2 separate regions of the Homo sapiens genome follow, and region 2 is linked to region 1. Evidence: fine-mapped expression QTL. Tissue or cell type: whole blood. Region 1 holds a variant in brackets; the other region holds the start of a gene. All regions are shown on one strand. Distances are from middle to middle.

The links. PIP is the estimated chance that this variant, and not a neighbour inherited with it, causes the effect.
Region 2: VAV3 starts here. The variant in region 1 is fine-mapped to the expression of VAV3 in whole blood (INTERVAL, PIP 0.96).

Annotation. Positions count from the first base shown.
Region 1 is chr1:107,558,542-107,566,649 of GRCh38, forward strand. No RefSeq gene overlaps it. Among named protein-coding and RNA genes, the nearest start is that of MIR7852, 330 kb to the right of the region's middle. The variant G/A (reference allele first, on the strand shown) is at 3,362.
Region 2 is chr1:107,961,496-107,969,586 of GRCh38, forward strand. It overlaps VAV3 (vav guanine nucleotide exchange factor 3), which reads right to left and starts at 3,685. Exons shown (of 27, transcript NM_006113.5): 1 at 3,171-3,685. The coding sequence starts at 3,374. It overlaps VAV3-AS1 (VAV3 antisense RNA 1), which reads left to right and starts at 2,948. Exons shown (of 3, transcript NR_046653.1): 1 at 2,948-3,009. RefSeq lists enhancers at 2,696-2,825, 4,172-4,466, 4,402-4,471.

The DNA of each region.
Region 1 (8,108 bases):
AGTGAAACAATGATCTCAAGAAGGAAGAGGGTGATCAGCGATTTAAATGTTGCAGAGAGTTGACTTCTGGATTTGGCAATGTGGAAGTTTTTGGTGAAGGTTTTGTGAAGTGTTAAGGTCAAAATTCAGATCAGAGTGGGTTCAAAAGAGAATAGAAGAAGAGGAATTAACAGTAGCAACTTTGGTCAGCTGTTTTGAGGAGTGTTGCTTTCTAGGAGATCAGAAAATGAACAGTAGCTGAAGGTAAATACAAGAGGAAAGGAGCTTTCCCTTTTTGTGTATTTATTTTTTAAGAAGGATATCTGTATCCTGATGGAAGGGTCTGATAGATAAATGAAGTTTGAATTTGCATAATTGAGAGGGGATAATTGCTGAAGCGATGTATTTGAGCACAGGAAAAGAAATAAGATTCTGTGGGTAGGTGAACTGGTGGGCTTTGGAGAAGAGCACAGGCCCAGTTCACACAGCAAGAGGAGATAAGGATATTGGTGCAAGTAGACTAGTAGGTGTGGTGGGGAATGTTTGTAGATAGTCTCCTATGATTTAGCCCCATTGCTGGAGTATTCTTTTCTACCCAAACTCTAAACACTGGAGAGCCCCAAGGCTCAGGTATTAGCTTGCTGCCTCTCCTATACTCATTTGCTGAGATGATATCATTTAGTCTCATGGCTTCAAATATACTACTCATTTCCAGATGTTTTTCTCATGCTCCAACTTTTCCCCAAACTCCAGACTCAGACCCAACTGCTTACCTGATATCGGTTTAATATCTAATGAGCACCTTAAGCTTAATGTGTCTAGAACTGAATAACTGATTTCTTACCTTCCTTCCCAAATCAGCTGCTCATCCTTAACCGTGTATGTATAACACCGTGCACAGAGTTGCTTAAGCCAAAAATGTTGACACCTCACATAATGATTTTTCCTCCCATTGTCACTTTACATTCAAGCCATAAGCTAGGCCAGCAGTAACTTCAAAATACATCTGAAATCCCAATATTTCTTACACATCCCTTGATATCATGCTAATGTGAGCCACCAACATTTTTCGCCTGTGTTACCTAATAGTACTTTCATGGTCTCTCTGCTTCCACTCCTGTCTCTCTGTAGTAAAACTTCCACCAAGAATCCACAGTGTTTCTTTAATAAGGCGTATCTGATCATTTCTCTTTTCTGCTTGTTTTAGTCAATTTTGTGTTGCTAGAACAAAATACCCGAACCTGGGTAATAGATAAAGAAAAGATATTTATTTGGCTCATGATTCTGGTGGGTGGAAAGCCCAAGATTAGGCAGAGATCACATGGTGAGAAAGAAAGCAAGAGAATGAAATCAAGGAAGCCAGACTCTTTTTAATAACCTGCTCTCATGGTAACTAATCCATTTTCGAGAGAGCAAGAACTCACTCACCACCAAGGAAGGGCATTATTCTGTTCATGAGGGATCCATGAGGGATCCACTCCCATGATGAAAACATCTCCCACTAGGTTCCACCTTCTAATGCAGCCACACTGGCAATTAAACTTCAGCATGAGTCATGGCTGCAACAAACCACATCCAAACCATACCACTGCTTCAGACTCGCCACTGGTTTTTCAAAACATAAAATCTTAAGTCCTTTCCATTACCTACAAGGTAATGGAAAGATGACCTACAAGGTCATCCTGGACCAAGATGATCTGGTTGAAGATTAGCTCTCTAACTCATCTTACGCCAAGAGAGGCTTTCCTTGACTAGCATATCTAAAGCAGCACTTTGCTCATATACTCTCCTTCCTTTGCTTTGATTTTTTCATTGTATTTATCACTTCCTTATATTATGTAATGTATATTCATTTACTGTCTATCTCCCTGTTCTTTCCAATATAAAGTAGGCTCTATAAAAGCAGAGAATTGTCTGTTTTGTTAACCATGTATTTGCAGCACCTGTGCCATGGGTTAAGTACTCCACAAATTCATTAAATAAATGGGAGGTGTTGGAGAGTTCTAAAAAATGAAATGAAATTATATAATCAAAAGATTAGAGGGGGGTGGGAAGGGAAGCAGGGATGCCAGTTAGGGGCTCTTGCAATCATCCAGGTGACATGAGATTGACTGGGACTAAGGTGAAAGAAGTGGAGATATTAAGAAGAGAATGATGCAAGATTTATGCCCTTCAAAGTTGTCCACCTACTTTTGTTTGAGCCTCAGTTCTCTGTCCCATTTACAAATTTGATTCCATGAAGATGTATCATGGCCAAATATTTATTGAATGTCTTCATGCAGAATAATAGGACGTTAGAACTGGAAGTGGGCTTGATGTCTTCATTCTACAGATGAGAAAACCGAGCCTTAGAGAGGTTGGGGGTTCCACCCAGAGCCTCTTGACTCATTAGTGGAAGAATCAAGAACTAGAATCTGGTTTGCCTTATTTTCATTCCTGTGCTCTTTCCACTTCCCCAGCAGTTGTATTGCAAAATTACTTTGGAAAAACTATATGTACTTATAACGTATTAAGAACTTTGAAACTGCTAATTGTTGTAAAAATAACTTGCCATATGATTACAAAAGTTCAACTTAGGCCTCTTGCACAATTTTAATTGTATTTTGGGCTGTGCTGAGAAGTCCCAAGAGGACACAACAGATTTTCATTTGCATCTTTCCACCCAACAGCTTCAAACTGATAGTGCAGCATTCAATGTATCATTCCAGGATTATTAATTTAGGGTTTGTCCACTCCCCCTTTCCTGGATGCCCCTCCTAAATATCCACTCAATGTCATCTTTGAGGCAGGAATTTATAAATGGGATTATGTCCAGTATTTTAAGGACATTGCAAAATAAACTACGTAATGAGTGGACCAGATAGGCTGCATAAAGGTAAATAAAATAATTTTTCACACTAATGTAGATTCATTGCATCACATATTATTAATGTAAACTTTATCCTTCAAACCACCTAGCAACAATATCTCATCATTAAGTATAATAAATGCTGAGGGCATTTCCCACCTCTCTATAAAACCACAGCACATTTTTTTCTCCCTTCTTCATATTACGCAGGCCTAATTTGCACAGAATCCAGAAGTGTTTCATTAATTCACTTAAATAGGTTGCTTTTTCCTAATGAGCTTACCTACACAGAAGTACCTAGGAGCTTTCCTCTCCTGGCGGGAAGACGTGTGATTCTGACACATAGGGTGAGAAAAAAAAAGGGTAATTCACTTGGGGCTGATGGCCTAAGAAGATGACAAATACATGGGTGGAAGTGGTATTGTTTCTATCAGCATATACTTGAATTTCTAGAAAAGTTTGGCCTTTGTTTACACCCCCTGAGGTTGAGCAGGACAGAGACAGGCTGTGGACACATCTGTCCCTAAGTATAGC[G/A]TCTCTCTGGCTCACTTTCCTCTTCCCATGCTGCACCCGTTCCCTAGTAATCTCTGCTGAAGTATTTGTATCGTTCAGCATGCACTCTAATAACATGAGGATATAAGAAAGAGAGCTGTTATGGATTTAATTGTGTCCCCTTCAAATGCATATGTTGAAGTGCTAAACTCTGGTACCTCAAAATGTGACCTTATTGGGAAATGGGGTGGTTGCAGATGTAATTAGTCAAGACTAGGTCATACTGGTGTAGGGTGGGCCCCTAATTAAATATAACTGGTGTCCTTATAGAAAGGAGAATCTTAGACACAGAAACACACACAGGGAGAATGCCATGTGAAGATGACAGTTATGCTGCTGCAGCCAAGGACTACAGAGGCCAGGAGAGAGCCTTGGAACAGATCCTTCTTTAGTGCCTTCAGAGAGGGCATGGCCTGGCAGGCACCTTGATCTTGGATTTCTGACCTTAAGAACTGTGAGACAATAAATTTCTGCTATTTAAGCCACTGGGTTTGTGGTACTTTATTATGGCGTCCCTGGCAAACAAATACAGGAGCTATTATCAAAGAATGGCAGTGTGTTGATTGCACGGGTCTAGCTCTATCTCAGTCCACAGCATCCAGTGTGAGCTTTCTGAAATGTAAATGAGATCACCTCACATCCCTGCTTAAACGCTTCCAGTGGCTCCTGTCACCCTCTTTTCCCTGTCTATAAGATCTACCAGATCTGTTCCAGAAAGCTCTCTTCCTTTTCACCCTCTCCAACCACACTGGGCCCTTGTGGCTCTCCAAACACTAAGCACTCAGATATTCATATATTTTTTTCTATTCTCAAATTAGGTCTCTGCTAAAAAAAATCATTTCCCCATAAAGCCTTCTTTGATCACCATATTCAAATAACATTTTCCTTGCTTCTTCTTCTTTTTTTTCTCCCTCAATAACACTTACCAGTGCCTAACATTATGTACCTGTGTCTTGCTCATCACCATCTGCAAGCAGATAAGCTTTTCATGGGTAGGAATTGTGTCAGCTTCATTGTTGTATCCTCAAAGGCTAGAATTATAGAGTTCGTAGAAGAAGCTCAATACACATTTGTAGAAGGAATGAATGAAAGAATGAAGGAATGAATGATTGGCCACATACTCTGGGATTTTAGAGTTTTACATTTTCAACAGCTACTTCCAGGGCATGCCTGATTGCCGTTTCCACTTTTCCCTGTGATCCTGTGAGATGGAGCCTGCATCTCACATATTGGACACTTCTCCCACACTTCCTCTCTCCCCCTTTCTCTCTCCCAAAAATTTGAGCCTCAGGAAAGGCATTTCCTAAATGAGGAAAGGGGCAAAGAAAATGAGCTCCCCTGGGGACAGCTCCTTCTCTTATGCATCCTTTTATTCCCTGCAGAGGCTGGTATAGAGTGGGTTCTGTAAATACTGATTAAAGGAATCAACAGGAAATGGTTTTTTATGAAGGACTACATTTTAGATTCACCTAAGTTTCTCTGAAGTAACCCATGCCTTTCAGATAGGCCTCATCTTTGGCTCCAACGACCATTCAATGCATCCATCTGTTGTAGGCAGCCAGTAGGATGGCCCCCAATAATCCCTTTGTCCTGGTGTTCATCCTGTGTAATCCCCTCCCCTTGAGCATGAGCTGGATTTAGTAACTCAACGCTAAGGGATAGAAAAGAGCTGAGTGCTGGGCTGTCACTTCTAAGATGGTTATAAAAAGACTAGCTTTCATCTTGAGTGCTTTTGCTCTTTCCCTCTTGGATGCTTATTTTAGGAGAAGCCAGCTGCCATGTTGTGAGGCAGCCATGTGGAGAGGTCCACAGGAGTGAACTCAGGAGCAGACTCTCCCCCAGTTGGGCCTGGAGATGACTGCAGCCTGGCTGACACCTTGATAGAAGCCTCATGGGAGACCCGAAGTCAGAAATACACAGCAAATCTGCTCCCGGATTTCTTACCCACAGAAACAGTGAAATAATAGATGTTTGCTGTACCCAACTGCAAAGTTTGGGAGTACCAAATTTGTTGGGTAGCAGTAGATAACTGATAGATGGTGCTCTGGTAGAGCATTTGATTTTGGCTCCATTTGTGCATCATTTTGAAAGGATTACTAATGTGAAAAGATAGCTCAAGGCCGGGCGTGGTGGCTCATGCCTGTAATCCCAGCACTTTGGAAGGCCGAGGAGGGAGGATCACCTGAGGTCAGGAGTTTGAGACCAGCCTGGCTAACACGGTGAAACCCTGTCTCTACTAAAAATAATAATAATAATAATAATAATAATCATAATAAAAAATAGCCGGAAGTGGTGGCGGGCACCTGAGGCAGGAGAATTGCTTCAACCCAGGAGGTGGAGGTTTACAGTGAGCCGAAGTCGTGCCATTGCACTCCAGCCTAGGCGACAAGAGCGAAACTCCTTCTCAAAAAATAAATTAACTCAAGAGGTCTTCCAAAGGCTAATATATACATTTAAAGGGAGTTTTTAACATATCCGAGTTTTTAAAATTCGTAACACTTATTTTTGTATATATATTTAAAGTAGTGGCCAAAATGCAAGTTTAAACTGTCTTGTTTACTGAATGTCTACTCTCTGCCAGACAATCTTCTAAACATTTTACAGCTGTGGCTGGGAGAGGTGGCTCACGCCTGTAATCCCAGCACTTTGGGAGGCTGAGGCGGGTGGATCACCTGAGGTTGGGAGTTTGAGACCAGCCTGACCAACATGGAGATACCCATCTCTACTAAAAATACAAAATTAGCTGGGTGTGGTGGCGCATGCCTGTAATCCCAGCTACTCGGGAGGCTGAGGCAGGAGAATCATTTGAACCCGGGAGGCGGAGGTTGCCGTGAGAGGAGATTGCGCCATTGCCCTCCAGCCTAGGCAACAAGAGTGAAACTCCGTCTCAAACAAAAAAAACATTACAGCTATTATTATTATTTCATTTAATCCTCACAAAAACCTCCTGAAGTAAGGTGCTATCATAACCCATTCTAACTATGCAGAAACAGAGGAACAGGCAGTGTAAGCATCTTGCCCAAGGTCATACAACTAATAAGTGGTAGAGCCATGATAGTCTGGTTCCAAAGCCTTAACCACTAGTCTATATTGCATTTTAGACAAAAAGACAGATGATACAGATTAGTAAAACATGTCAAATAGCCTTAAAAAACAACCCTAGTGTAGAAGATTTACTAAACTAGGACAAGATTTTTCATGATTAAAAGATGGGATGTTGTTAGTCTGTAATGAATTCTCAGAAGGATTATATGAGATAAATGAGATAATATACGACAAATACCTAGCATACTGTCTGGCAGATACCAGTACAAAAAAAGAACAGCCAAAAGAGAAAAGGAGATGGACTATAAATTATCGTCGGAAAAAAAAATCACTTTCTATAGGGAGGTCATTTGGATCACAAGAAAATCCACAAGCTTCATCCTTGTCTAGGTAGCAGGTTGATAGGTGCAGCAAACCATACGTGGCACATGTAACAAACCTGCACGTTCTGCACACGTATCCCGGAACTTAAAGCAAAAAATAAATAAATAAATAGGAAAATCCACAAGCATTTACTGATCAGACTCCCGAGTCATTACTGTTCTTATTGACACGTTTCAAAGTCATCAAGACAGGTTGATAGCAAGAGGTGCAAGGATTGTGACTCAGTCATATTCTTACCTGATCTAGGATCCCAGCAGTCACCCAGAATGATTCCCAGAAGAAAGGCCTTAAGAATGGAGGAAATAATACTGGAGTCAGAGGGTCCTGAGTACTGATGTATGACAGAGGAATAGAGACAGCATTTATTTGACTTACAGCTGAGACACCCATGTTTTAGTCTTTACCTTGACAGTATTTTCTATCTGCATGACCTTGGGCAAGCCAGATCATGAATTGGACACATTGGCTCTTCTGGAGTCCACCTTCCCTCCTATTCAGGACTCTCAACGTGGATCGCAACATCCATTAGAGGACAGGGTGTGAAGTGACTTTTGTGTACACTGTGTTTCTGCACTGAGGACTCTTCCCATCTGGCCATGTGCCTGGGTCATCATTTGTAGTTGCATTGTGCCTAGAAATTCAGGGACTTTGACAGCCAGTGTCTAGAGTGCTTCAAAAGGAGTTTGTTTTCTGTCACTGTTTCCCTCGATCTGGTTTAATCAATGGCACCGAACGAGAGACAGAATTCCTTTATGATATCCTTTCTGGGACTTGTTCATTACTTAGAATAAGGTGGCTTCCAAACCACCTTATTACTTAGAATAAGGTGCCAGACCAGATGTGGGTGCGTAACATTTCTAATCAGAGTCCAACCAATCACAGCAAACTAGTTTTCAGTGAAAAATGAAGTGACTAATGGACTCAGTCTAAATGATTATGAGCTGAGTAAAAATTCCATTTTCCTAGTCAAAATAATGTAGAGCTGTTAAATTCAACTTCTGAGATTGTTTGTGGGTTTGCATATTAATCTTCCTGAACATGTATACTTTTTACTCTGTCCATAATTTAAGTGCAGAAAATTAAACTATATGTAAAAAACAAAGCATGGACTCCCAATAATATTCAAAATAACGGCAGCAAGTACATAATTTGATACCTGAGTATCTTATCTTTCATAAAGGGAGGGAAACCAATATTTCTTGCATACCTACTATGTGTGAGGCTCTGTACTAGGGACCTTTTTCATATGTTATCATTTATTCTTCACAACAGCTCTCTCAGGCACTTTTAATGATCCCTT
Region 2 (8,091 bases), 400 kb after region 1:
ACACTAAAATCTAACATATACAGACACCAAATTTCTTAGATATTCACTGGCCAACTGCATTTTATTTAACTGTATTATATAATAAGAGGAACATGTTAAATGTATAACTAAATATGATTAATGTTTACCTCTTTAACCTATCATAAATAAAAACAAACACTAAATCAGCATGAAAAAATATACTTATTTTTGAACTGAAGATCATCCTCTTACCAAGATGGCAAGATCAAAAACAAACTGATGTCAACAGCCAGAAAGAACAATAAGTAAGAAAACTGGGATCCCATCCATGCTTTTATTTTGAAAGATAATCAACTAACTTATTAAGATTCCAAGATTCAAACCTATAATTGAGCAGTCATTATTTGCAGTTATTTATTTTTTTAAATGCAAACAAGGCAGAAGGCTAACAGAGAATAGAAAGGCATCCCACTCACTGGAATAAACACTCATTTTAAAAGGCTGGTCATTTTATAGCCTCTTTCAGGAAAGCTAAACAGGCTACAAACAAAACATCAATAAATTAAAATTTCTTTTGTCAACATCTGCTCTTTACAGTCTCAATATGTCACAAAAGTCAGAAGTGACAGCTTCCAGTTATTTCTCAGGTTAGGAGATCATGTGCTATAAAAAATAGTCTATTTCAAATTAATATCTTCAACAGAATCTAAGTAGACAGAACGACTCTCAGACATACCAAAACGCCACAAGTACTAGTAATGACATCTCTAACTCCAGGGGAATACATTCTGCTGGGACATGACAGGGTTGTACCAGGTTAATAGTGTATTCACTACAGCTAGAACCTTTCCCAAGAAAGAGATGAGTAGTTAGCGGCAAAATGTCTAGGGTTATCAGCCCAAAGGAACCGGTAGGCCTCTACAATTGTTTTAAAATTTCTATTGGAACCTATTACTCTTAATATAACAATAGCAGAAAAAATGTTTTTCATAATTTTGCTAATAGTAAACATTTATTAAGTACATGTGCTAGGCACTATAAGCATGTTAAATACGTCAAGTTGTTTCATAAAATCATTTCATAAGTCTCATTAAAGGATTTAATGACAACCTGCATGATACAAACTCATCGGCCTAGCATCCACTTGTTCAGCAGCCTTGCCTCTCTGCAATGAGGCCAAGAACCATGAGGAAAGCAAAAACAGACATCACCAGGCTCAGGTACTAGCCTTCTAGGATTCACATTTGAGGGAAGCACCCTCTCATAGGACATTACAGGAGAAACTGTACTTAATTTGGAACCAGAAACCTCAAGGTTGAACAGACTTAAGAACTCAAAAGTGCAACGGCACAAAGAAGGTCATTAGCTGTCCTACTTACCTTATTATAACCCAGTGATTTACCATCTGATAGCATAGTGTAATAATTCCTTTAGGGCAAGTATCCTGGTGTGCTCATTTTGCTACCCCCACTAGGGAACAGAACTCTTAGAGCATTGTATGTGCTCAATTTTCATTAATGATGCTTATAATGACAATCTTTGGTCATCAGAAAGATTAAATTACATCTAACATAAGAGGAGAAGAGTGAAACACATTCAAAACGATTCTCATCCATTGTTAGCATTCAAATAAAGGCTTCGAGGTTTAAAAAGGTCTTCAGCTGTCCAGAAAACGTGATTATTGAGAGCAACTGCTGAGAGTTCCAGGAAACAAGTTCCAGGAAATGTGCACAGTACTGTACTCCCTACTGGTGGGCCAAGGCATCCTGACCCACGCTGCCTCCTGAGGCTACAGGCAAAGTGGAAAATGGGGATGTGTGAGAGTAGCTAACTGCAGCTCCCACCATAATAGAAAAGTCTGCCAAACCCCTCAAAGGAATTTCCAGAGTTGAGACAACTCTGAAGGGGTACCGAGAGGTAGCAATCACCATGCATGTTTATGGGGGTATAAAATAATTTACCTCACTTTTAAATACGTATGGCTCTCCCCACTTCCATGCCTGTTCTTTCTTAGGGACTGCCCACCAGCAGGTTGAAGGCAAACAGGCAAGGAATGCAGAATCTGAAGTGCAGGGGACCCTGATGAAACACTGACACCAAGAATCACAGATGACTGTGTGTGCTCTAACTTTAAATACATACTTATTAAATCATATAAAGTCCGTTCCTTCTTAAAAGGCGCTGCTCTGGTTGCTAAGTAGCTGAGGCTCTGCGTCATAGAGGATTAGTGCTGAAATGTGTCAGGGAGAGGGCTCTGTCCTCTCCCTTTTAAGTTGAAAGCAGTTTGGTTTTTTGTTTTGTTTTAACATTCTGAAAGAGAAAGAGGCTCTGAACCGAGTTTAACATCCTTCTGTACAAAAATTTTCCGACAGGACAAATAAACTACTCTTCCACTGAACTGTGACTTTTGAGCTGACTCTAGGGTGCACCCAACCTTCCAGAGGTGTCTGGCTTAACCCTCAAAGAGGCAGCTCCAGCCCCAGGAGCCGACCGGCACCACAGCACCTGAGCAGGGCACTGCAGGAAGGAAAGCGGAATCTCTAGTGAAACTTCTCATTTCCTGTCGCTGCTGAGAGAGGCTGGACTCGCTCCTTCTCACATGGCTTAGGAAGAGCTGTAAACGGGAGCTTGCCGGCTGGCCACCAGCTCAGGGGCCCTGGGGGCGGCCTCCGGGTTCTGCTCCCTGTTCTTCCCTTTGACCAATGTCACTCCTGGACAGATAACGGGACCAAACGCCCTTCACTTCCTCGAGTCCTCATGTATGTCATGGTTCCTCTTTTAGGAAAACATGAGTACAAGACGCAAAGCAAAAGAAGAGACTAAAGGCAAATTACCCCATCACCTCGTTTCGTCCCTCCCCTTCGTTATTATAGAAGAGCTTGATCAAATTCCCTTTGTCGCGCCACACACACGCAGAGTAGGTGAAGGGCACCCTAAGACAACTTATTTCTTTCCCGCCTCACAGAAAGCCTTTACGAAATCCTCACACCATCTCCGGACGCAAAGCTTTCGCATTCAGCTTGAGGAGCTAAACCATTTCAAGCCAAGGTAGGAAACGCCAAAGTGGTGCCGAAGTGGTCCCAAAGCAGAAGGCTGGGAAGCAGGGCAAGCTCAGCGCACCTAGACGTTTGCATTTACACAAAGAAATTAGCCGCATGATTAATGGGAGCTGCCGGCTGGAGGCGGGGCGCCCGTGCCGGCCTCCTCACCTGGGACATCTGCGGCCTCAGGTTGATCTCCTTCAGGTTGATGGAGTGCGCCCGGAGGTTGTTAAGCAGCTGGCAGAGCAGGACTCCATCGCGGAGGGTCTGCGCAAGGTCGAACACCTGAGCCGAGTCCCAGGTCACCCGGTGGTTGGTGGGCAGCACCTTGCAATGGATGAGCCACTGCGCGCACTGCTTCCACGGCTCCATGCCCGACGGCTCCGGGACGCGGCTGGGCCGGGGCGGGCGGCAAGGATGCGGCCGCCGCCGCCGCCGCCGCGGTTCCTCCGCGCCCCGCCGACGCCAACAGCCGCCGGCCCTTTCCCCGCGCGGGATCGAGGGAGCAGGAGCCGCGGCTGACGGGTCGCGGGCGCCGCGCTAGGCTCGGCTCCGGTCCCGGCCCGGGTGCGCCGCGACCCGGCCGCCGCTGCAGCGAGTCCCGCGCGCTCTCCGTGCGCCCCGGCCGGCTCGGCGGCGGCTGCCGCGCACAGGCTTCCGACTCCAGCGCCCGGCCCGCCACTGAGCATGCCCAGCACGCCGGCCGGTCTCGCTGCGGTCCGCAAGTCCCCAGACGCGCGGGTGGGAGCGCGCCGGCGGCCGGGGCTGGGGTCTGTGGCCGAGGGCGGGGCGCGGGGGAGGGGCCGGCGGAGGGGGGCGGCGGCCAGAAAGGGGATCCCGCGCCCCCGCCTGCAGCCTTGCGGGGCTCACGCAGCCCCCGGCGTCCTGGGGTCTTCTCTCGGGGCGGCTTCCCGGCTTTGCGGGGAGTGTGGCTGAATACTGTAATACGATGGGGTCCCCCAGGACCCCCTAAACAACAAATGCTCAAAGGAGCGACGGATTAATTGGGGCACCCAGACTCCCCAGAGCAATGAAAAAAGTGCCTAGAGCATCAGTAGAGCACGGCGCTGAAAGTTTTAGAGATCGTCGCCCCCTCGCCCCTTGCAGCTCTATCCCCTCCATTCTCTATAGCTGATTCCTCAGCCTATTCCTCCTAGTTGCCCCTAGTGGTGTTTTGGCACCCTCAAAGTGAGTGAGAGTGCGTGTGTGGAGACGCCTGCGGAAACCGCCCCGATCCCTGAGCCTATTTCCTCGCGAGGTGATTTTCACTTGGAGCTGGTTTGCCCCTGCACTGTCAGGCTCGGAACTGTTTGCCGTTGCTGTTCTGGCCCTTTTGCTGACCCCACAAAAACCTGCTTGAGAAAGGCCTGTGCCACGGTGCTAGACTGCGCATGCGTCGGCGACTGGCGGCCGGGTTTGAGAGCAAAGCGCGTTAGCCCTGGGCAGCTCCTGCCGGGCTGTTCTGGGATCCTTAGTGAAAGTTGGAACTTGACCCCAGAACTTTTGCGCAGTGCACAAGCAGTGCATTCGTGTTTCTTAAGTAAATCTTTTGGAGACTCTAAACCCTACCCCTTTTACTCCCACTGCACACTGCCCCTCAAAACCACAATTAATGTTTAAATTATTTGTGGCAAGATATTGCCACAGTGAATTATTGCTGTTCGATAGGAATGTGGTCCTTCGTCACCCTTTTGAGATGCATTCACTTAAAATTAGAAAATAGGCCGGGCGCGGTGGCTCACGCCTGTAATCCCAGCACTTTGGGAGGCCGAGGCGGGCGGATCACGAGGTCAGGAGATCGAGACCATCCTGGCTAACACGGTGAAAACCCGTCTCTACTAAAAATACAAAAAATTGGCCGGGCGTGGTGGCACGCACCTGTAGTCCCAGCTGCTCGGGAGGCTGAGGTAGGAGAATCGCTTGAACCCATGAGGCGGAGGTTGCGGTGAGCTGAGATCCAGCCACTGCACTCCAGCCTGGACGACAGAGCCAGACTCTGTCTCAAAAAACAAACAAACAAACAAACAAAAAGATGGGAGTTTGGATAATTTAATTGTATTATATTTCTGTAGCCCAAATTTTTTATTACGAACCATGCTTTATAAGCAGGCCAAAATATTATTTTTAAAAGAATGATCTGTTCAGGATAGTGATTGCGTCCTTTTTCGTTTGGCTGTGACAAGGATAGCACACTGTTTACACTCAGCGCTGAACAATAAATCAGCCTGAGGATTTCCTTTCCTCACACGCATCCTTCCCTAGCAATTTCCTCTTGTGTTCAATGCGGATTCCATCAATAGCACGACATTTTCTAGGCCATAATTTTGGCAAATAAATCATACTAATCTCTACATACCTTTAGAAGCAAAATCCAACACATTTGAATCACCATTTAACACAGTCTTTCATAAAGAGAAATTAAAAAGAAATTTCATTAAACGGGTCAAAATTTAAACTAAAACTATGAATTTTTTTCAGGTAGCATCAGATCACCTTTGGATGTTGGAGAATATTTCCAAAATCCACATTATATACACTATCCCAGGACGCAAATCTGGATTTAGAGCCCGAGCTGTACTGCTTTCTAGCAACATGACCTTGGATAAATTCTCTACAGTTCAGTTTCCATAGATACGAAATAAGAAATTTTTTTTTTTTTTTGTGGGGGGTGGACGGAGTCTCGCTCTGTCGCTCAGGCTGGAGTGCAGTGGCGCGATCTCAGCTCACTGCAAGCTCCACTTCCCGGGTTCACGCCATTCTCCTACCTCAGCCTCCCAAGTAGCTAGGACTACAGGCGCCGGCCGCCACGCCCGGCTAATTTTTTTTGTATTTTTAGTACAGACAGGGTTTCACCGTGTTAGCCAGAATGGTCTAGATCTTCTGACCTCGTGATCCGCCCGCCTCGGCCTCCCAAAATGCTAGGATTACAGGCGTTAGCCGCCGTGCCTGGCCATAAGAAGTAATTTCTAACTAATAGGGTTGTTGTCAGGATCAAATGGTACAATGTCTTGCTATTCAAAATGCAGCCTGTGGACAGCAGCATCACCCTTGAACTTGTCAGCACTGTAGACGTTTGGCCTCTACTCTCATACTGAATGAACCAGAACCTGAATTTTAAGATCTCCATATCCCATGTATTTCCATCAAAAGCCAAGAAGCACTGATACAATGCATAGAATGTGTGGTGCCTGATAATTAGAGCTCAATAAATATTACCCAATAGTAGCCACTTTTCATTAACAAGTGGCAACAACGACCAAATATTCTATTTCACTTCTCTGTATATAATATATGACTTCAAAACATAATGCTTCTCAAATATAGTAAACCACAGAGTTGATAGAAAGGCAACAGGAAAATATATGGAAGGCCTAGAAGGGAAGGAGTTTAGTGGAGACACGGGATTCTTCACGTAAACAAGGAGCTAAGTGCCAATAGGTGACTCGTGAAAGACATTTAAGTGTCAGAAATTGGTGCAATAAAAATGCAATGGGCTTCTCACCTGAGTTATCCTTACTAAAGGAAAAAATTACAGTCTTTTCCCTTTACAATTTTTTTTTTTTTTTTTTTGAGACAGAGTCTCACTCTGTCAGCCAGGCTGGAGTGCAGCAGATCTCGACTCACTTCAACATCCGCCTCCCGGGTTCAAGCTATTCTCCGGCCTCAGCCTCCTGAGTAGCTGGGACTACAGGCACAAACCACCACACCTGGTTAATTTTTGTGGGGCTTTTTGGGAACCAGCCCTTGTCCCAACAAACCACTGACCTCGGCCTCCAGGCCTGCCCTGGCTGGTCATCAGAGCAGTAAGTGAGAGCAGGAGGCAGAGGCTGGGGAGGACAAGGGAGAGGGAGTGGGGTCCAGTGCAGGGAACAGGGCCCTGTCACCCAGGCTGGAGTGCAGTGGCACGATCTCCGCTCACTGCAACCTCCACCTGCTGGGTTCAAGCGATTCTCCTGCCTCAGCCTCCCGAGTAGCTGGGACTACAGGCATGCACCATCACACCCGGCTAATTTTTGTATTTTTAGTAGAGATGGGGGTTTCACCATGTTGGCCAGGCTGGTCTCGAACTCCTGAACTCAAGTGATCCGCCCACCTTGGTCTCTGAAAGTGCAGGGATTACAGGTGTGAGCTATCGCACTGACCTCCCTTTGCAACCTTAAAGGAAATGTTCCACCTAGTGAAGGCAAGTTGGGAAATAGGGACCAACTCATCAGTGGCAACTCCTTGCTAATCCTGGTACCTAGTGTTCTTGCGGTGTGCAAGAAGTTCTTTCTTGCATATCTGACGTGTGACTTCAGGACCCCTCCTATGGTCCTACTGCCCTTGAGTCCTTCATAGCCCCTGTAGTACATCCACACTCTACCATTTGCTGAATGCCCACTATGTGTCAAGCACTCTTCTGGGCACTTTACATGCACTGTCTGCAAGTGAGAAGATGCTCTCCCACCCATTTTAATGAAGAAGCTAGAGATCAACAGAGTTAAGCATCTTGCTCTTTATTAGGGAACTCAATAAAAGGATGAGCTTGTGTCTCCACATCTGCGCCCCTTCTGTTCAGAGCTGTGGCTCAGCATTAAAATAATTGCTGTATCAAGCTTAATTACTGGTTTAAACATCGTTCTCCCTGCTAGACTGAAACACCTTGAAGGCAAGGGTGGTAACTCATTCATCTTCAAATTCCCAGAACCAACCTTGGTGCCTGTCACATGACAAACAATAAATATTAGTTTGGTGAGTAAATAAATGAACAAGCTATGTTAACCCTCTTGCTCTCCCTCCATCCCTCTCTGCCTTTCTATCCTGTCTTTCTGGTGGTGAAAAGATCAGGAAGGATTTGCCAGCATTACTTGTAACAGGCATAAGAGTCACATGAAAAAAGATCTGCTTTTTTCTTTTTTTTTTTTTTTTTTTTTTTTTGAGCCAGAGTCTTACTCTTGTCACCTAGGCTGGAGTGCAATGGTGCGATCTTGGCTCACTGCAACCTCCGCCTCCCGGGTTCAAGCGATTCTCCTGCCTCGGCCTCCCGAATAGCTGGGATTACAGGCGCCCACCATCATACCTGGCTAATTTTTGTACTTTTAGTAGAGAC